Linked DNA regions of Homo sapiens. The protein of the gene in region 1 purifies or fractionates together with the protein of each later gene. This does not show direct contact. Each region holds a gene or a part of one and is shown in the gene's direction. Other genes may lie near its edges.

The links. The genes of interacting proteins can lie anywhere in the genome.
Region 2: the proteins of TTC4 (region 1) and EDRF1 purify together in Homo sapiens (affinity purification with mass spectrometry; 5 studies listed by BioGRID and IntAct, with this or other methods). This does not show direct contact.
Region 3: the proteins of TTC4 (region 1) and GCC2 purify together in Homo sapiens (affinity purification with mass spectrometry; 4 studies listed by BioGRID and IntAct, with this or other methods). This does not show direct contact.

The regions. Positions count from the first base shown.
Region 1 is NC_000001.11:54,711,464-54,718,860, forward strand, and holds the start of TTC4 (tetratricopeptide repeat protein 4), read left to right. Parts: upstream 1-4,397; 5' UTR 4,398-4,445; coding exon 4,446-4,556; intron 4,557-5,136; coding exon 5,137-5,254; intron 5,255-6,028; coding exon 6,029-6,190; intron 6,191-7,397.
Region 2 is NC_000010.11:125,715,513-125,722,723, forward strand, and holds the start of EDRF1 (erythroid differentiation-related factor 1), read left to right. Parts: upstream 1-4,196; 5' UTR 4,197-4,295; coding exon 4,296-4,403; intron 4,404-5,691; coding exon 5,692-5,900; intron 5,901-7,211. UniProt on the Homo sapiens protein: Transcription factor involved in erythroid differentiation. Involved in transcriptional activation of the globin gene.
Region 3 is NC_000002.12:108,452,186-108,459,220, forward strand, and holds part of GCC2 (GRIP and coiled-coil domain-containing protein 2), read left to right. Parts: intron 1-213; coding exon 214-281; intron 282-7,035. UniProt on the Homo sapiens protein: Golgin which probably tethers transport vesicles to the trans-Golgi network (TGN) and regulates vesicular transport between the endosomes and the Golgi.

The DNA.
Region 1 (7,397 bases):
TTATTAAGTTCATGCATACCCACGACTGAGCAGTTCCACTCATGGATACATAGCTCGGGGGAATATTCCACAGGTCCATAAAGAGAGATGCATGAGGAAGTTGATCAGTGTTCTTTGTGGTGGTGGGGAGAGGAGGCAGCCTGGGTATCCACCCCTTGGGAGAGTATGTGTGCCGTGGAGCCCTGCACAGCAGTTCGGGGCTGCCAGATGGGACCTAAAACCCAGTGCTGAGGGGAAAAAGTGTATCAAGAATGTATACACAAAAGTTGGCCAGGCGCGGTGGCTTACTTCTGTAATGCCAGCACTTTGGGAGCCTGAAGCGGGTGGATCACCTGAGTCAGGAGTTCGAGACCAGCCTGACAAACATGGTTAAACCCCGTCTCTACTAGAAATACAAAATTAGCCAGGCGTGGTGGCGCATACCTGTAATCCCAGCTACTCAGGAGGCTGAGGCAGGAGAATCGCTTGAACCTGGGAGGCGGAGGTTGCAGTGAGCCAAGGTCGCGCCATTGCACTCCTGCCTAGGCAATAAGAGTGAAACTCCATCTCAAAAAAAAAAAAAAAAAAAAAAAAGAATGTACACACAAAAGAATTCACATTTTGGAAGAACACTTAGAAACTGAGAAGACACAGTAAACACACTAGAGGCCAGGTGTGGTGGCTCATGCCTGTAATCCCAACACTTTAAGAGGCCAAGGTGGGAGGATCACTTGAGGCCAGGAGTTCAAGACCAGCCTGGGCAACATAGTGAGACCTCCATCTCTATAAAACAAAACAAAAAAATGCTAATAAAACATGCTAGAATGATTGATTAGGGTAAGGAGGAGGGCTTTGGGGTATAAAAGGGAGTAAATAAAAAAGGAAGCAGAAGAAGCTCACTATGTCATGGAGTGAAAGGGCTGGATGGCAGGGTGGACAAGAGCACCATCAGGGAGACTTAGCCAGAAACTGCTGAGAGAACAGTGACCAGACCTTGCAGCACAAAATGGAGAGGATGGCCAGGCCTGCAGGAGACTGAGGAAGGGGATTTTCAGAGCCTAGTGGTTGACAGAATGGAGGAGGGAGGAGGGAGAGGGAGGAGCTGAGTTTGGCACCCAGATTTCTGGGTGGATGACTAAGCCAATGGAGCCCACACTAAGTGGTGAACCCAGGACCAGGAGCAGGTTGTGGGGCAGGGGATGAGTTCAATATGGGCATGGTAAGCTTGAGGGACTGTGCAGCAAGCTAGTGGAGATATCCACAGGGCAGTTGGCTGCCGCTGTGGTCTGAATGCTGTGTCCCTGCAAATTCATATGAAATCCGAACCCCCAAGGTCATTATATTAGGAGGTGGGGGCCTTTGAGAGGTGATTAGGGATTAGTGAATGGGATTAGTGCCCTTATAAAAAAGAGCCTTCAGAGAGCTCCCTCACTACTCACACCATGGGAGGACACTGAGAAGATGGCATCTGTGAACCAGAAAGCAGGCCCTCACCAGACACCGAATCTGCCAGGCCTTGATCTCGGACTTCCCAGCCTCCACAACTGTGAGAAATAAATGTTTGCTGTTTACACACCAGAGTTGATGGTATTCCGTTATAGCAGCCTGAATAGACTATGGCGGGCACAAAGGGACACGGGTGGAGCTCAGCTGAGGGACCTGAGAAGGAAGCAGATTTGGGATTCATCTGTGTGTAGGGGCTGGGGTACAATTTCCCTGGGAGAGTATGTAGAGTGGGCAGAGACATCAGCCTGTGGAGCACCTAACTTAAGCTCCTGTTGGGGGTGAGGAACCCATGATGTTGACCACACAATCATCTTCTAATAAATGGTAGCCCAGGCCATTGGTATTCTGGGCCTGAGAGAGAGAGTAGGAAATGGGGAGATTCATTTGCACAATCCTTTCCATCACTGAGAATGTTCACAAACATTGCCTCCTTGGAGTCTTACAGTAGCCCTGTGGATTATGGGGAAGGCAGAATGGATTATGGGGAAGGCAGACTGGATTATGGGGAAGGCAGACTGGATTATGGGGAAGGCAGACTGGATTATGGGGAAGGCAGACTGGCTTTATTGCCCACATTCCACAGATGAGGACACAGCTTAATGAGGGATGGGCCTTGCCCAAGGTCATGCAAGGTAACTAATGGAAGTGTAGGTCCCGAAGATCTCCAGACTCCTATACCTGAACCCTTCCACCCAGAACCACTTCTGCTTTCATGGGCTAGGACCCAGGTCTAGGGTGGCCTTGACAGATGACAGCTGCTATATTTTGGGTCTGGGTGGCCCCTAAGCACAGCAAAGGCTGATCGACTCAGTTATCGGCCAAGACCACTAAGTAGTTTTGAGTTGGAAGGTTCAGAGTGTGCTGGGCAAGTCACTTTGCTTCTCTTAGGTTCCCCTATTGTTACCTATAAAATGGGTTCATACCTCACAGTGTTCTTATGGGAATCAAATGAGAAAAAAAAGAAAGCAAAAAGACTCTGTAGGCTCTGGACTCAGTAAAGGAAAAGATGATGAAGAGGAGAATAAGGGAGGGAACCAGGATTAGGGAGCAGGGCTGGAGGAGGAAGTGTGGAAAAGGAGGTTTGGATTTGGAGGGAAGGGAGTGCTAGGACCAGATGTTCTGCTGGGTGTGGAAGAATCAGAAGGGAAAAGATAAAGTCCTGGCACTGGAAGGCTCATGGTCCCCATGCGCCATCCTTAGCCATGCTGTCTCCATCCCCATATCAAAGAATGACTACCCTGCCAGCTCCACTGCTGGGCTTCAGATCTCTGTCTTACCTTGGTCTCTTATCAGCATCCTCCTTGTCAATCTCTTAACCAACCTCCCCCCATCAATGCTTCACCTGGCAGCCCAGGCCTTCCTAAGACAAATGTGCTCACGGCCATTGCTCCTCTTAGGTCTTTTCAGTGACTCATTATCCTCTGCAGGACCAAGGTCAGTGAGGCAGGCAGGCCTTCTGGCCCCTACCCACTTGCCGGCCACACCTCTTTTTTTTTTTGAGGTGGAGTCTTGCTCTGTGGCCCAGGCTGGAGTGCAGTGGCGCAATCTCGGCTCACTGCAACCTCCACCTCCCGGATTCAAGCGATTCTCCTGCCCCAGCCTCCCCAGTAGCTGGGACTACAGGTGCGTGCCACCACGCCTGGCTAATTTTTTGTATTTTTAGTAGAGACGGGGTTTCACTGTGTTAGCCAGGATGGTCTCGAACTCCTGACCTCATGAACTGCCCGCCTCAGCCCCCCAAAGTGCTGGGATTACAGGCGTGAGCCACCGTGCCCGGCCCTGGACACACCTCTTAACACTTGCAGTACCCAGCATGGCGGGCCTGTGCACACCTCCATGCCTCTCTCCACATATGAGCTCCCACTGCCTAAAACGCTGAGTCCTCTATCCATCTGCAGAGACCTTCCTCAGCTCTGATCTCAGCTCTGCATCACCTTGAATCCCACCCCTCTGAGCCTTCACTGAGCAGACCTGTGACCCAATGCCAGTTTAGATTGGTGTGCTTCCTGTCTGCTTTTCATTCCAGACCAGGCTAGGAGCTCCCCAAGGCTGTAGCCCCGGTGCAGGGACCTGCAGCCATTTGCTGGCCGGTAGAGAGGCTGCAGGAAGCCACAGCGGCTGCCTAACCAGGCCTGCAGCACCTGGACCGAAGACCCTTTTCCATCTGAACTGTGGGAGTTAGGGGTGGCTAAGCTCAGAGACAGAGGTCTGATCAGTCTCTCCTTTCCTCGAAACTCTCCAAAAGGTCCCATACCACTGAGGAAATAGCCAAATCCTCATAGTCACAGCCCTTTTGTCCTCCCACCTCATCATCTCCTTGCCCCCTTCCTCACTCTGCTTCAGCCCCACTGGCCTCCTTGCTGTTCCCCAAGCACAGAAGACTCTCCCGCATCAGGCTTCCGGACTGTTCCCTGTTCCTTCCATGGGAATGCCTTTCCCAGACCCCTCCTAGTCACTCCCAGGCCTCTGGCAGAATGTCTACCCATCCTGTTTAAAACTTTTCCCCAATAGCTCTTGCTACCCCTGACAAACTCTTACATCTCAACTATTGTCGTTTCCTCCCCACTGCCTTAGCAACTCCTAGAGGGCAGAGATTTCATCTGCTCTGCCCACCGCTATATAGCCAGCCACTAGAACAGGCCGGAAGCGCAGAAAGAGCTAAGTAAGTATGTGTTGACTGACTGACGAACAAATGAATGAAGTGAGATGGGGGCTTTGGGGATTCGGGTTCACGCACCACCCCAAAAGCATTCGAAGGCCGGGCGAGGCCAGGCACTGCCGAGGAGGGCGGGCCGGGGGAGGAGCGTATTGGCCACGCCCGGCCACGCCCCCAGGCCGGCGGAACCCAAGGCGCGGGGACCTGCGCTGCCGGGAGGATTGAGGGAAGGGAACCCGCGCCGCCGGAAGGAGCCGCTCGCTTCACGGCGCTGGGACCCGGGCTGGAAGGCAGGGCATCAGCTATGGAACAACCTGGGCAGGATCCCACCTCAGACGACGTCATGGACTCGTTCCTGGAAAAGTTCCAGAGCCAGCCTTACCGTGGCGGCTTTCATGAGGACCAGTGGGAGAAGGTGGGCGGTCCTGGGGTCTCCCCACGTGTGTAGGGGCGTCGTCCGGACTCGTGGGGCACCCGGGCTCTGGGGCACCTCCTTCAATCCCAGATCCCTGGCGCTGCCAGCCGATCGCTGGTTTCTAGTTGAGTATTGAAAATCGGCCTCGAGGTTTTGAGTCGCTTCTTAAGCTGAGAACCTAGGTTTTGGAGTCAGGCCTGTGACTCCACCACTTAACTGGCTCTGATATGAGTCAGTTACTTAACTTCTCAGAGTCCGTTTCCTCATCTGTAAAACTGCGCGAACTATATCACCAATAGCAAAGATGAAATGAGACAGTTGGTAAAGTGCCAAGAACATAAGGGCGCTCAATTAATGGTAATTCCTGCCGCTCTTGTAGAATGTGAGAACTAAAACAATCATTAGAGACCATTACACCACACTCCCATTTTACAGAAGGGAAGCGGAGGCCTGAATGGATACAGCTAGCTGTGATGATTTGCAAATCATGATGAGTAAAAAAACTTTGGTAATGAGTCATGGAATTGGATCTGCTCAGTAGAAAAGCTTATTCATGTAGTTCATTCTTAACCATTTACAGGAATTTGAAAAGGTCCCCCTATTTATGTCGAGAGCGCCATCAGAAATTGATCCCAGGGAGAATCCTGACTTGGCTTGTCTCCAGTCAATTATTTTTGATGAGGAGCGTTCTCCAGAAGGTATCTTAACATGACTAATATTTGTTTTGTGTTTCCATTGAACTGAAATTAAGTGTGGGTTAGAAGCGTTCTGATTGATAACAAGAAGTAGTTAGCCTGAGCTAACTTGTCATTATTCATTCCAATATACTTCTTTTTGTACCTACTAAGTGGTAAGGACTGGGGATACAGGGGTGAATAAGACACAGTTCCACCCTCCAAGGTCAGGCTCAGTGAGAAGCCTTTTGTCTTAAAGAATCAAGACAAACTTATGCTATAAGTGTCAACATGTAGGTGTATACTACAGCTGTAGTGGGTCCTGTTGGAACACTTTAAGGAGCAGGAGTGGATTCACAATAGATAGGAAATTTGAGCTGAATCTTTGTAATTTTGTAGGCTTTTACTAGGGTGAGGAGGGGAATTTGCACTCCACAGAATAAACAACATAAGCAAAAGCAGAAGTATAATCAATCCCCCTGCCCCTCACTGATTTCTTCAGTGATTAAAAAAAATTCTTTTCTTCAACAGCTAGGATGAGTGTACTTTTTTCCTTTATACTTCTTTTTTTTGGAAAGCACTTAGTAATCTACCTTGTAAGATATTTGGAATTAGCATTACATTTGTGCGACTTTGTCCATGTTGATACCCACTTTTATCATAACATCGAGTTTCCTTTCCCTATTGGTTTCTTCGCTTTGGTGTGTCATATAGTACATTATTACATGATTTAGAATCTATTTTTAATGAGCCTTTTAAAAAGTAAGCAATAGTGATTATTTTTCCTCTTCTTTGCAGAACAGGCCAAGACCTATAAAGATGAGGGCAATGATTACTTTAAAGAAAAAGACTACAAGAAAGCTGTAATTTCATACACTGAAGGCTTAAAGAAGAAATGTGCAGATCCTGATTTGAATGCTGTCCTTTATACCAACCGGGCAGCAGCACAGTACTATCTGGGTAATTTATAAGTGCTTTCTGAAGAATAAACTTATGATACAAGCCATTATGATGGTTAGTGGAGGTTTGAGAACATCAGAGGATGAGGGGCTGTTATCCCAGAAACCCAGACTAAGGATAGTTTACTCTGATTGAACTCTGGTCTTCCAAGTTGACATGATGAAAAGAGAAACAGGATGGATTGTGTAATTCTTACTGTCTCAACCCAAAAAGTGACTTGGTCACTCAAGTAAGGTGTTTGATGTATGAGGCAGTATGTTCTGAGATTTTTGAGCCCAAGGGCTTCTACTCTCTCAAAAAATGTGTTTTTCTGGCCTTTTATCCTCTTTTCAAGGATGCTAGCAGGAGTAAGGCAGTAGAGATCTTTAGGTGAGATAAGCTATTTTAATCTAAGGGAGAATATCTCAAAGCGTTCTGTGGGACCTTTGAGTTAAAAATATTTTTTGGTTGGGTGCAGTGGCTCATACCTGTAATCCAAGCACTTTGGGAGGCTGAGACAGGAGGATCGCCTGAGGCCAGGAGTTCAAGACCAACCTGGGCAATATAGTGAGACCCTGTCTCTCCAAAAATTTAGCTGGGCATGGTGGTGCCTGCCTGTAGTCCTAGCTACTTGGGAGGCTGAGGCACGAGGATCGCTCAAGGCTACAGGGAGCCATAATCACACCACTGCACTCCAGCCTGGGTGACAAAGTGAGACCCTGTTTCTAAAAAGTTGCTTGGATGAGGAATTTTAACTCATTTATTTATTCATATTTTTTACTTTATTACATTTTTTTGTAGAGACAGGGTTTTGCCATGTTGCCCGGGCTGGTCTCGAAATTGGGCTCAAGTGATCCATCCGCCTCAGCCTCCCAAAGTATTGGAATTACAGGTGTGAGCCACCGCACCCAGGAGATTGAGGAAGTTTGGAAAATGCTGCTTCTTAGAGATTTACAGTACATGTTAACATGTTAAAGACACTGAGATAGCCTGCAAGAAAATAAATTTACCCTGGGTTTCTCAAATTTTGTAAGCCTCCTCTTCAGGTAACACCAACATCATGCAGGTTCTGTAGTCGTAAATTTGGGAAATGATTATTTAAGTAGTATTGCTGGTGACTAGTCTTGGTTATGTTAGACCTGTGGGTTTTTTTTAAAAATAATTTATTTTTTTAATTGAGACAGGGGTCTCGCTATGTTGCCCAGGCTGGCCTTGAACTCCTGAGCTC
Region 2 (7,211 bases), on another chromosome or scaffold:
CCATTTTGTAGGTTGCCTGTTCCCTCTGATGGTAGTTTCTTTTGCTGTGCAGAAGCTCTTTAGCTTAATTAGATCCCATTTGTCAATTTTGGCTTTTGCTGCCATTGCTTTTGGTGTTTTAGACATGAAGTCCTTGCCCATGCCTATGTCCTGAATGGTAATGCCTAGGTTTTCTCCTAGGGTTTTTATGGTTTTAGGTCTAACGTTTTAAGTCTTTAATCCATCTTGAATTGATTTTTGTATAAGGTGTAAGGCAGGGATCCAGTTTCAGCTTTCTACATATGGCTAGCCAGTTTTCCCAGCACCATTTATTAAATAGGGAATCCTTTACCCATTGCTTGTTTTTCTCAGGTTTGTCAAAGATCAGATAGCTGTAGATATGCGGCGTTATTTCTGAGGGCTCTGTTCTGTTCCATTGATCTATATCTCTATTTTGGTACCACCATGCTGTTTTGGTTACTGTAACCTTGTAATATAGTTTGAAGTCAGGAAGTGTGATGCCTCCGGCTTTGTTCTTTTGGCTTAGGATTGACTTGGCAATGCGGGCTCTTTTTTGGTTCCATATGAACTTCAAAGTAGTTTTTTCCAATTCTGTGAAGAAAGTCATTGGTAGCTTGATGGGGATGGCATTGAATCTGTAAATTACCTTGGGCAGTATGGCCATTTTCACGATATTGATTCTTCCTACCCATGAGCATGGAATGTTCTTCCATTTCTTTGTATCCTCTTTTATTTCATTGAGCAGTGGTTTGTAGTTCTCCTTGAAGAGGTCCTTCACGTCCCTTGTAAGTTGGATTCCTAGGTATTTTATTCTCTTTGAAGCAATTGTGAATGGGAGTTCACTCATGATTTGGCTCTCTATTTGTCTGTTATTGGTGTACAAGAATGCTTGTGATTTTTGTACATTGATTTTGTATCCTGAGACTTTGCTGAAGTTGCTTATCAGCTTAAGGAGATTTGGGGCTGAGACAATGGGGTTTTCTAGATATACAATCATGTCATCTGCAAACAGGGACAATTTGACTTCCTCTTTTCCTAATTAAATACCCTTTATTTCCTTCTCCTGACTAATTGCCCTGGCCAGAACTTCCAACACTATGTTGAATAGGAGTGGTGAGAGAGGGCATCCCTGTCTTGTGCCAGTTTTCAAAGGGAATGCTTCCAGTTTTTGCCCATTCAGTATGATATTGGCTGTGGGTTTGTCATAGATAGCTCTTATTATTTTGAGATACAGCCCATCAATACCTAATTTATTGAGAGTTTTTAGCATGAAGAGTTGTTGAATTTTGTCAAAGGACTTTTCTGCATCTATTGAGATAATCATGTGGTTTTTGTCTTTGGTTCTGTTTAAATAACTAAAATCAGAGCAGAACAGAAGGAAATAGAGACACAAAAAACCCTTCAAAAAATTAATGAATCCAGGAGCTGGTTTTTTGAAAGGACCAACAAAACTGATAGACTGCTAGCAAGACTAATAAAGAAGAAAAGAGAGAAGAATCAAATAGATGCAATAAAAAATGATAAAGGGGATATCACCACCGATCCCACAGAAATACAAACTACCATCAGAGAATACTACAAACACCTCTATGCAAATAAACTAGAAAATCTAGAAGAAATGGATAAATTCCTCGACACATACACCCTCCCAAGACTAAACTAGGAAGAAGTTGAATCTCTGAATAGACCTATAACAGGCTCTGAAATTGTGGCAATAATCAATAGCTTACCAACCAAAAAGAGTCCAGGACCAGATGGATTCACAGCCGAATTCTACCAGAGGTACAAGGAAGAACTGGTACCATTCCTTCTGAAACTATTCCAATCAATAGAAAAAGAGGGAATCCTCCCAACTCATTTTATGAGGCCAGCATCATCCTGATACCAGAGCCGGGCAGAGGCACAACCAAAAAAGAGAATTTTAGACCAATATCCTTGATGAACATTGATGCAAAAATCCTCAATAAAATACTGGCAAACCGAATCCAGCAGCACATCAAAAAGCTTATCCACCATGATCAAGTGGGCTTCATCCCTGGGATGCAAGGCTAGTTCAATATATGCAAATCAATAAATGTAAAGAATAAATTTTAAATCACTTCATTTTACGGCTCAGAGGTCTGTTTTGTGGACACAGAGACAGAAATGGAGACGTTTTTAAAATTAAGATCATATTGCACATTGGCTTTTTTTTTTTTATACGGAGTCTCGCTCTGCTGCCCAGGCTGGAGTGCAGTGGTGCAATCTCGGCTCACTGCCAGCTCCGTCTCCTGGGTTCACACCATTCTCCCGCCTCAGGCTCCTGAGTAGCTGGGACTACAGGTGCCTGCCACCAAACCTGGCTAATTTTGTTTTTGTATTTTTAGTAGAGACGGGGTTTCACCGTGTTAGCCAGGATGGTCTCGATCTCCTGACCTCGTGATCCACCCGCATCTGCCTCCCAAAGTGCTGGGATTACAGGCGTGAGCCACCGCGCTAGGCTGCATATTGGCTTTTTAAAATTTCACTTATCACTTAACATTATATGATATGCAATTTAAATGTTCTTAAATATTCCTGAAAAACAAGTTTATGGTTGCACAGGGTTTATTTTCTACCAAAACCAAATTTGACTATCCTCCTCCTAGTGTTAGATATTATGTTCAACTTTTCACCATAAAAAACAATGCATAACTTGCAAAAACCAAAAAAGAATTATTGGCTGCAATATTCAAATGAAATGATAAAAATCAAAATCAATACATGTTGAAGTAAATGTCTACAAAATACACTATTATATCAAATTAACTGTTAAATTTAATTCACTATTATTATTTTTTTAAGACAGAGTCTCACTATCGCCCAGGCTGGAGCGCAGTGTTGCCATCTCTGCTCACTGCAACCTCTGCCTCCCAGGTTCAAGCGATTCTCCTGCCTCAGCCTCCCTAGTAGCTGGGATTACAGGCGCCCACCACCACATCTGGCTAATTTTTGTATTTTTAGTAGAGATGGGGTTTCACCCTGTTCGTCAGGCTGGTCTCGATCTCCTGACCTCAGGCAATCTGCCCACCTCGGCCTCCCAAAGTGCAGGGATTAAAGGCGTGAGCCACCGCGCCCGGCCTGTTAAATTTAATTCATAAAATTGTTTTGTTACATTTGAAAGCAATTTGTGAGTTGAATGCTTACTCATCAGGAGCATTCCTGAAAACGGACAGGACAGTGAGTTGTAAGAGCCAAACGTGAATTACAAATTGAGACAGCCAAATTGCAAGAGCCAAGTTAATTTTTAAAAACACTTTCTGTATCTTACGGCACAACAAAACACTTTTACTACAAAACATGTATTGTATAACGGATGTGGCTGCGTTTGACAGTTTGAGATGACACTGAGGAGTGTGAAAGAGAGCCTGGACCTTCAAAGCTTGCAAACGGCCCGGGCTATTTCTCCACCTCTTCGCTACTCAAAGCGCTGGCATCGTTTCCTGGGAACCTGTGAGAAATGCCGAGTCTCGGACCCATCCAGAGCGCCCGAATGGAAACCTAGGCGTTACGAGGCCCCAGGTTCAGCGTCTCACGGGTCCTGCACCACCTGGGACGCCCCGCAAGCAGCGGGCATGCCGGGCCCCCAGAAGACTCCGAAAGCCACCCATTCCCTAAACGGGGAGGGCCTCGTCCGCGCGTCCCAGCGCCCTCCCCGGAAGCCCCGCCGCTCCCACACCCAGGATGGGGCCACATGGGCACTAAAAGGCGGGCAGGAGCGCCCAGTCTCGAGATGGCTGGCTCGCCTTTCCAGTCCGGGCCCTCGGGGTGCCCGTGTGAAAAGATGTGACACTGAAGCCTGGGGAAGAAGTTTGAACCTCTCACTAATTCACGTAACGGGAGCCGCCGGCAGCGCTGACGGCTGCACCTCCCCTCCCACGCGGACACTACCTGCAGGATCGGACGACCCCCAGAACTGTTTGCCAACAAAGACATGCAGGGGGCGGAGCCTGAGCGTCAGATACCGTGAGCGGCGTGCAGAGGGCGGAGCCTAGGAGTCAGATACCGCGAGAAGTAGTCTCCCGAAGAGGTTCGGACAAGCGCAGGCGCACTACAATTCCCGCCCTGGCCGCGAAGGTGGCACCCGCAGCGGGAGGCGGGGCCGGGCCTTCGGGACAAAGATCGCGAGATTTAATGGCGAGTCACAGCTACTTCTTCCTGGCAGAGACCGGAAGTGCGGTCCGCGGAGCGTCTCTGGCGCTTACCCTGCTTTGGGCCTGCGTTGCTGCTGCTGCTCCTCCGCTCCCCCGTCGTATCGCCTGCCCTGGATCGAAGTGATGGGGGATGCCAAGGAGGCCGGAGCCGAGGGTCCGCCGGCCGGGGCCGCCGCTCGAGGAGGGCTCAGCCTCCTGTCCCAGGGAGAATCCGAGGAATCTTCTGCACAGGTGAGTCCTCCGCGGAGGGGGACCTGCCAGGGATGTGGGAGCGGAGGACCCGCTCCACCGGGGAGGGATGCCACGGTTCCCGGCAGATTCTGGAGGCTTCTCCATGTTTCCCTGACACCCCCAAAACAGGGAGTTGAAGTCCATGCTCCAGTCGGCAGGTATTCGTATTAAAAGCAGTTCTGGTAGCCGACAGGTGAATTAGATACGATCTTTCCTCTCAAGGAGGGTACATGTAAATATGTCGTTCCAAAACGTGGCACAGTCGTGCAAAGCAGGAGGGAAGAAACGGTGCCAGGTAGTGACTCGCCGAGAATGAGACCGAACTAATTCACAAAGGGTGTAAAATGTTTGCCATGCAGAAGAGGTACTGCGTGAAAGGTTAGAATATTGAACCCAGACGCCGAACTTGCTTTGGGAGTGTGCAAGTGCAGGCTGTGAGGAACGAACCCCCAATGCCTTTCTATGAAGTTAGAGACTCAAGAGTATTTGAACCATGCATGCATGCATGAACCGATGCATCGATTACTAAATATTTGCATTAAAACAAAAAGCCCAAATGTTCTACCAGACTATTTTATGAATGATGTGTTATTAAAATTAAAATACATCTTTGGCCGGGCGCGGTGGCTCACGCCTGTAATCCTAGCACTTTGGGAGGCCGAGGTGGGTGGATCACCTGAGGTCGGGGAGTTCGAGACCAGCCTGGCCAACATGGCAAAACCCTGTCTCTACTAAAAATACAAAAATTAGCCGGACGTGGTAGTGCACGCCTGTAATTCCAGCTACTAGGGAGGCTGAGGCAGGAGAATGGCGTAAACCCCAGAAGCCGAGGTTGCAGTGAGCCATGATTGCTCCACTGCACCCTAGCCTGGGCGACAAAGCAAGACTGCGTCTCAAAAAAAAAAAAAAAAAGAATTAAAATACATCTTTAATACTGAAAATAGGCTTTACTAAAGTTTGCATCTAGTTAACATGATACCATTGAGTCTCCTTGGTTTCTGCTTCTCCACTTTACATGAATACATTTTAAAAGAGATGTGGGTGGTCCATTTTCTAGCTGATAACCATAACCATCATACTCCTTGACTCATCTTTTTTCTTTGAAGTTGGTGTAAAAGAACTAAGTAAATGTTACCATTTATGCTCAAATTTATTAAGTGCTGTTAGTAACATGTGGCATACGTTCCTTGTGAAGCCTGGTGTGACAGGTTCTTGTTTTCTTTTTATAAAGGTGAGATTTTTCGTTCTTAGTAATTTTCATTAAAGTTTCACCCAATGTGTTAATTAGGGATCAGCTTTATTTCTTGGAGGCAATGAAGTGAAGAGCCGAGCTGTGGTGAAATACTCTTCTGCCCCTCCTCGAACAGCATTTGCACGCCTTGAAGAGAAAACAGACTTGAAACTCCCACCTGCCAACTGGTTACGAGAGAGTGCCAAACTAGGGCCAGCAGGAACTACCATTCTTGGCAACAGCAAGAAAAGCAAGCCATTTTCAAGGTAAATATTAATCAGTGGCATTTTTACCTGCCCCTCCACCCTCACTTAAAACTCTTATTTGCTTTTAAATTCAGTTTGTAATGCCTATTAACTTGTCGAGATTTCTCTTTAGAGAAAGATCACATTTGATTTTCAAAGGCTTTTTATTCTGATAATAGATGATGTTAAAACATGAAGATATACATACAATATCAATTGCATATGCTTCTTTTAAGTCTACGTCATGTTATCAGCAAAGATGAGTTTTGACTGCCAAAGTTCAATCAGCCCTTTCATTTTAGCCAATTTGCATACCTTTTGGATATGTGAATACAAAGGATCAGCTTGGTGCATGAGGAGGAAAACCTTGAACATTCCTTCATCTTTCCTGTGGAGTTTTTCATTAAATGGTGGCAGGTTGATCTGGAAAAGCCAGATTTAAAAACCCAGCATGTTGGGTGACCTACACCTTGACTTTGACACCAGAACTGATGGTGTTCAAAGTTGAGAGAGTAGCCTGAGGTCTTATAGAGAAAAATGTATTAATGTACATACTGTAGGACATTTAATGTGTAGGGTTCTCTTTTCTTCTTCCCCCTTCTCAGCAACTCAATCTAAAATATTTCCATGTAACTTGTAGCAAGAGGCACAAATACACTAATACTTTATGAGCTGGTATTTTGGAAATTATCCTAAAGCCTCAGAAAATAAAAGTTATATTTGCAAAAATGCTGTTTGTTTGTAGCATCATTTATAGGAGCAAAAAGTTGGGAATAACCCAAATATCATTTTTTAAAAGAATGGCTTAATCAGTTGTGATTTGTCAACATAATTAAATGTTGTGAGGAAATTTGAATAATTATATTGACTCTATACAAATGCTGTGGCAAGTATTTATATGCTTATCTCATTTAATTCTCACAACAACTCTTTGAGATAGGCACTGTTAATTATATTGCACCTGAGAAAACGGAAGCTGAGAAGAGCTAAATAATTTGGCTCAAGCATACAGTAAATCACAAAGCATGCTTTGCTGTTAGGTAGTCCTTGGTAAGTGTCCTGACTCTGCCATTTAGTAGTTGGAACATGGTGATGTCGGGTACCTTTCAGGCTTATAGACTATAGATGTGCTTCAGGTGGTACGTGGCATCAGTTGGCTGCTCAATTAACATTTTTTTTTAATTTCCTTTTGTGGCTGAATTGGTGTCAGGTACATTTTTTTCATGTATTTTTTTAAGAGGTATTGTATATCACTAGAAACACAATCTCAGAAAGTAAAATCCTGATAAATGTTTCTGTTTCTGTTTTTCTTATCTCTCCACCTAAAAAGAA
Region 3 (7,035 bases), on another chromosome or scaffold:
TGAAGGAGGAAGTGAGTACAGGTTGGGAGGAAACAAAATTGGCCATGTAATGCTGAAGTATAGTGATGAGTGCAGAGATTAATCATACTATTCTGCTTAAATATATTCTAATTTGCAGATTTATGGGGGGTTTTGTGAGAATGTACTTATCAGTTTCCCAGTAATTATGTTCTTTATTTCTGAACCGGAGTCCTTTATTTTTTAATTGTTTAGAATTGGAGAAAGAAATTGAAGAACTCAGATCAAAACCTGTTACTGAAGGAACTGGTGATATTATTAAGGTAATTATTACGTTGGGAAATGTCTAAAGAGAAATAAAATTTCCCTGAGGATTGTCAGTCTGCTAGAGGCTATCTGGCTTTCTGTTTCTGTTCTACTTCCTCTCTGCCTTGGTTGTTTTTACCTATCTGATTCACTGTAAAAAGAGGGGGTTAATGACCTCTGGGTCTCTTTCTGTTCTGAAATTATTATTCTACTCTCTTCCCACGTATTTTCTTTTTTCTTTCTTTTTTTTTTTTTTTTTTTTTGAGATGGAGTCTCACTCTGTCACCAGGCTGAAGTGCAGTGGTGTGATCTTGGCTCACTGTAACCTCTGCCTCCCGAGTTCAAGCAGTTCTCCTGCCTCAGCCTTCCAAATAGCTGGGACTACAGGCGCCCGCCACCACACCCAGTTAATTTTTGTATTTTAAGTAGAGACGGGATTTCACCATGTTGGCCAAGATGGTCTTGCTCTCTTGACCTCACGATCCGCCCGCCTCAGCCTCCCAAAGTGCTGGGATTACAGGCGTGAGCCACCACGCCCAGCCCATATTTTCTAATTATGGTTGTTACTTCATTCTCTGCTCTTCCCCAGCCCCCTGAAAACCTGGCCATGCTCAGGACTTAAGTGATTTTAGGTGTACAGTATATAATCTATAGATAGATCCATATCCCTGGACATGTCTACTGACCCAGATCTCACAGTTGTGTTTCCCTCTCACACATTTCACTTATCTCATCAAACTCAACCAAATTGCTTCCCTTGGTTAGACCAGTGGCACCACAGTTTTTTATACCTTTTGACTTTAGAGACACTTTAACTTCTCTGTTTCCTTTATTCTCTATATGTGTCAGTCACCAGAGACCTATTATAGCTTTAAGATATTGTTCCAGTTTATCTTTTTTCTCTCTATTTCTATGGCTTTATGTTAAACACATCAAATACTTAACCTATTTCAATAAAAACCTCACTGGGTTCTCTTTCTCTTTTTAGTCTTATATAATACTGCCAGATAACAAAATATTGTTTTTATTCCCCGTTTAAAAACCTGAGTTGCAGGCCAAATGCAGTGGCTCACACCTGTAATCCCAGCACTTTGGGAGGCCAAGGTGGGAGGATCACTTGAGGTCAGGAGTTTGAGATCAGCCTGGCCAGCATGGTGAAACCCTGTCTGTACTAAAAATACAACATTTAGCTGGGCGTGATTGCCCACACCTGAAATCCCAACTACTCAGGAGGCTGAGGCACGAGGATTGCTTGAACCCAGGAGGCAGAAGTTGCAATGAGTTGAGATTGAGCCACTGTACTCCAGCCTGGGCAACACAGCAAGACTCCGTTTTTAAAAAAAAAAAAAAAAACACAAAAAATCTGAGTTGCTTATTCTTATTTCCACTCCCTTAATGCTAACAAATGCTTTTTCATTCCCTCACTTTCATTGCCCGCCTTAGGCCAAGCTTCTGTAAAGTTTCTTTTACATCTCAGAGCTCTGAAATACTGTTTTCACTGCTTTTGCATAATATCCGTTGGTTATATATTTATTTATTTTTATTTATTTATTTATTTTGAGACAGAGTCTCGCCTTGTCGCCCAGGCTGGAGTGCAGTGGCACAATCTCGGCTCACCGCAAGCTCCGCCTCCTGGGTTGACGCCATTCTCCTGCCTCAGCCTCCCAAGTAGCTGGGACTACAGGCACCCGCCACCATGCCTGGCTAATTTTTTGTATTTTTAGTAGAAACAGGGTTTCACCACGTTAGCCAGGATGGTCTCGATCTCCTGACCTCGTGATCCACCTGCCTCGTCCTCCCGAAGTGCTGGGTTTACGGGCGTGAGCCACTGCGCCCAGCCTGGTTATATATTATCTTATTTTCTCATCAGTGGCTCCCCACTTGTGAGCAGTGAACTACTGAGGGACTCCCAGAGAGTTATTACAAGGGGTCTTTAAATCCATATGCATGTCACACAGTATCATTTTGTTCTTTATTTAGTTACAGTGTATGAAGCTAGAATGATGTGCACAAATGTCATTTCATTTTATAATGTACTGTTTCATTTAAGTATTACTGAGTTCACAGTAGTCTTCTTTGTATATTTAGTCATTATATGTTTTCTTAATCCATGATAGCCACAGTACAACTATATGTTAATTAAGGAAGAAGGTCGATAACACCCAGACTGCCTGAGTCAGGCTTTCAAATCCTTGTTCATCTACTGATCAGCTGTGTGACCTTGACTAAGTTTCTTAAATTCTTTCTCTATGATTCAGTTTTGTCATCTGTAGAACAGCGATAATAATACTTTCTGTTTGTAGGATTGAGGTACAAACAGGATTGATGTAGAAATGTAGGATTGATAAGGTAATATATCTACTGCACATAGAACTGGGTTGGTCACATAAGTACCCAATAATTGTTAGTTATCATTGTTATTACTACCATTTATTATTTCTGGGGGATTTTTTTTTTTCTTGAGATAGGATTTCTCCCTATCGCCCAGGCTGGAGTGCAGTGGCGTGATCTCCGCTCACTGCAACCTCTATAGAGTGTTAGAAAACACTCTAGAAAGTTTTTTATCCATTAACTCTTATAATACTTTTTACAGAATTGCATTTCAGAATAAGAACATTTAAATATCTACCTGCTGTTTCCTCCTTATCACTCATCAATGTATTCTCCCACTGTCAAAACTACTCCTAAAGACAAGATTAGAAAATTTCAGCCAGGCTCGGTGGCTCACATCTGTAATCCCAGCACTTTGGGAGGCTGAGGCGGACAGATCACCTGAGGTCAGGAATTGGAGACCAGCCTGGCCAACTTGGTGAAACCCCATCTCTACTCAAAATACAAAAATTAACCAGGCATGGTGGCACGCGCCTATAGCCCAAGCTACTTGGTAGCTGAGGCAGAAGAATCGCTTGAACCGAGGAGGCAGAGGTTGCAGTGAGCTGAGATAGTGCCACTGCACTACAGCCTGAGCAACAGAGTGAGACTCCGTCTCAAGAAAAAAAAAAAATTCTCCAAGTTAGCCAACTTTACCTTTAAGGTTTTTTTTCTTTTCCTTCTTTTTTTTTCCTGATCCATTATATTTATACGTATTCATGGGGTACATGTGAAATTTTGTTAAATGCACAGAATATATAATCATTAAATCAGAGTATTTACTATCCACAGCCAGGTATTTATCATATATATGTGTTGTGTACATTTCAAGTCTTCTGGCTATTTTGAAAAATATTTATCTTTCCCTGTCTTAGATTTTACTTAACATAATGACCTCCAGCTCCATCCATATTCCTGGAAATGGCGTGATCTTATTCTTTTTTATGGGCATATAGTATTCCATTGTGTATATATACCACATTTATCCATTCATCCTTTGATGGGCACTTAAGTTGATTTCATGTATTTGCTATTGTGAGTAGTGCTGCAATAAACACAGGAGTGTATATATCCCTTTGTTATATTGATTTGTTTTCAATGACTACCAATATTGGGGTTTTTGGATTGTATGGTAGCTCTATTTTTAGTTTTTTGAGAAATCCCCAACTGTTTTCTTTTTTTTGAGACGGAGTCTTGCTCTGTCGCCCAGGCTGTAGTGCAGTGGCATGATCTTGGCTCACTGCAAGCTCTGCCTTCCAGGTTCACACCATTCTTCTGCCTCAGCGTCCTGAGTAGCTGGGACTACAGGCGCCGGCCACCAAGCCTGGCTAATTTTTTGTATTTTTTAGTAGAGATGGGGTTTCACCATATTAGCCAGGATGGTCTCGATCCCCTGACCACTTTGGGAGCCAGCCTCGGCCTCCCAAAGTGTTGGGATTACAGGCGTGAGCCACCGCTCCTGGCCTGAGAAATCCCCAACTGTTTTGTATAGTGACTATGCTTACCTACACTTCCACCAACAGTGTAGAAGAGTTCTTTCTCCACATTGTCATCAATATCTGTTACTTTTTTTCTTCTTAATAGCCATTCCTTATTGTGGTTTTGATTTGCATATCCCTGATGATTAGTGATATTGAGTATTTTATCATATACTTCTTGGCCATTTCTTTGTCTTTTAAGAAATGTCTATTCATGTCCCTTGCCTATTTTTTAATGGGGTTATTTTTTAATGTTGTGTTGTTTGAGTTCCTTGTATACTCTGGGTATTAGTCCCATATTGGATGAGTAGATTGCAAATATTTTGTCCCATTTAAGAGGTTGTCTTCTTCATGCTGTTGATTGTTTCTTTTGCTATGCAGAAGCTTTTTAGCCTATAATCTCAGCATTAAGGGAAGCCATGGCAGGAGGATCACTTGAGCCGAGCAGTTTGAGACCAGCCTGAGAAACATAGCAAGATCCGTTTCTACAAAAAAATATAAATTAGCCAGACATGGTGGAACATGCCTGTAGTCCCATCTTCTTGGGATGCTGAGATAGGAAGATCACTTGATCCCAGGAGGTTGAGGCTGCTGTGAGCCATAATCACACTTACTGCACTCCAGCCTGGGTGACAGAGGGAGCCCTTACATAAAAAAAAAAAAAAAAAAATTTAAGATGCCTTTCAGTTTAATGTAGTCCTATTTGTCTGTTTTTGTTGCCTGGGCTTTTGAGATCTTAGCCATAAAATCTTTGCCTAGACCAATGTCTTGATGCATTTGCCCTGTGTTTTCTTCTTTTAGTTTTACACTTTTGGGTCTTATATAATATAAGTCTTTAATCTATTTTTGTTGATATTTGTATCAACTAAATGGTGAGAGATAGGGACTCACTTTCATTCTTCTGCATATAGTTACCTGGATTTCCTGGCACCGTTTGTTAAGAGGGTGTCGTTTGCCCAGTGTGTGTTCTTAATGGCATTGTCGAAGATCGGTTGTGTATAAATATGAGGATTTATTTTTGGGTTCTCTATTTTGTTCCATTGGTCTGTATGCTTGTTTATATACCAATACTTTGTTGCTTTGGTTTCTATAGCCTCGTAATATGTTTTGAAGTCAAGTAGAATGATGCCGCCGCTTTATTTTTTAACTCAGAATTTCTTTAGCTTTTCTGGCTTTTTTTTTGGTTTCATGAAAACATTAGGATTCTTTTTTCTGTTTCTTTGAAAAATGGTGTTGGTATTTTAATAGGGATTTCATTGAACTGTACATTAGTTTGGATAGTATGATCATTTCAACAATATTTTGTGAGCATGAAATGTCTTCCTGCTTATTTGTGTTCTCTTCAGTTTCTTTCATCTGTGTTTTTGTAGTTTTCATTATAGAGATCTTACACTTCTTTGGCTTTTGTTTGAGCTACTGTAAAAGGTGTTGCCTTCTTGATTTCCTTTTTTAGCTATTTTATTGTTGGTATATAGAAATGCTACTGGTTTTTGTATGTTGAATTTGTATCCAGCAACCTTACTGAATTTATCAGCTCTAAGAATTTTTTGATAGTCTTTTGTCATCTGTAGAGAGGGACAGTTTAACTTCCATGTTTCCAGTTTGGATGTCGTTTATTTCTTTCTCTTGCCTAATTGTTCTGGCTAGGACTGTCAGTCCCATGTTGAATAGTAGTGGTGAAAGTGGGCATCTTTGTCTTCAGTTCTTAGAGGAAAGATTTTCAGCTTTTCCCCATTTTTGTGTGATGTTAATGTGAGTTTGTCATATGTGGCCTTTATTATTTTGAGGTATAATCCTTCTGTGCCTAGTTTGCTAAGAGTTTTTATCCTGAAGGGATGTTGAATTTTATGAATTCCTTTTTCTGCGTCTAGTGAGATGACATACGACTTTTGCCCTTTATTCTGTTGATGTGATATGTCACATTGATTTGCATATATTGAACCATCCTTGCATCCCTCGAATAAATTCATTTGATCATGGTGTATTATCTTTTCAATGTGCTGTTAGATTTGGTTTGCCAGTATTTTGCTGAGGATTTTTGCATTGGTGTTCATCAGGGATATTGGTTGTTGCTTTCTTTTTTTTTTTTTTTTTTTTGCTGTGTCCTTGTCTGGTTTTGGTATCAGGGTAGCACCAGCTTTCTAGAATGAGTTAGGGAAAATTGCCACCTCTTCAGTATTTTGGAGTAGTTTCAGGAGGATTGGTATTAGGTCTTTATACATTTGGTAGAATTCAGTGTGCATCCATCTGGTTCTGGGCTTTTCTTTGTGGGGAGACTTTTTATTACTGATTCGTTCTTGCTACTCATTATTAATTTGTTCAGGTTTTCTATTTTTTCCTGGATTTTTCTTTGATAGGTTGTATGTTTCCAGAAATTTATCCATTTCCTCTAGGTTTTCCAGTTTGTGGGTGCATAGCTGTTCATAATATTCTCTGATGGTCTATTTATTTCTATGAGAATGGTTGTAATGTCTCCTTTTTCATTTCTGATTTTATTTAGGTCTTCTTTTTTGTTGTTGTTAGCCTAACTAGTAGTTTATCAATTTTGTTTATCTTTTTGAAGAACAAGCTTTTCATTTTGTTGATCCTCTGCCTTTTTTAAAAGTCTCTATTTCATTTAGTTCTGCTTTGATCTTTATTAGTCGTTTCCTTCTGCTAATTTTGGGTTTGGCTTTGGCTTGTTCTTTCTGGTTCATTGAGGTAAATCATTAGATTGTTTGAAATCTTTTTACTTTTTGGATGTAGGCGTTTATTGCCATAAACTTAGTATTCATGTCCTGCTTTTGTTGTATCACACAGGTTTTGTGATACAAAAAATCACATAGGTTTTGTGATACAAAAGCACTGCTTTTGTTGTATCACATAGGTTTTGGTATGTTGTAGTTTCCATTTTCATTTGTTCCAAGAAATTTTTTGATTTTCA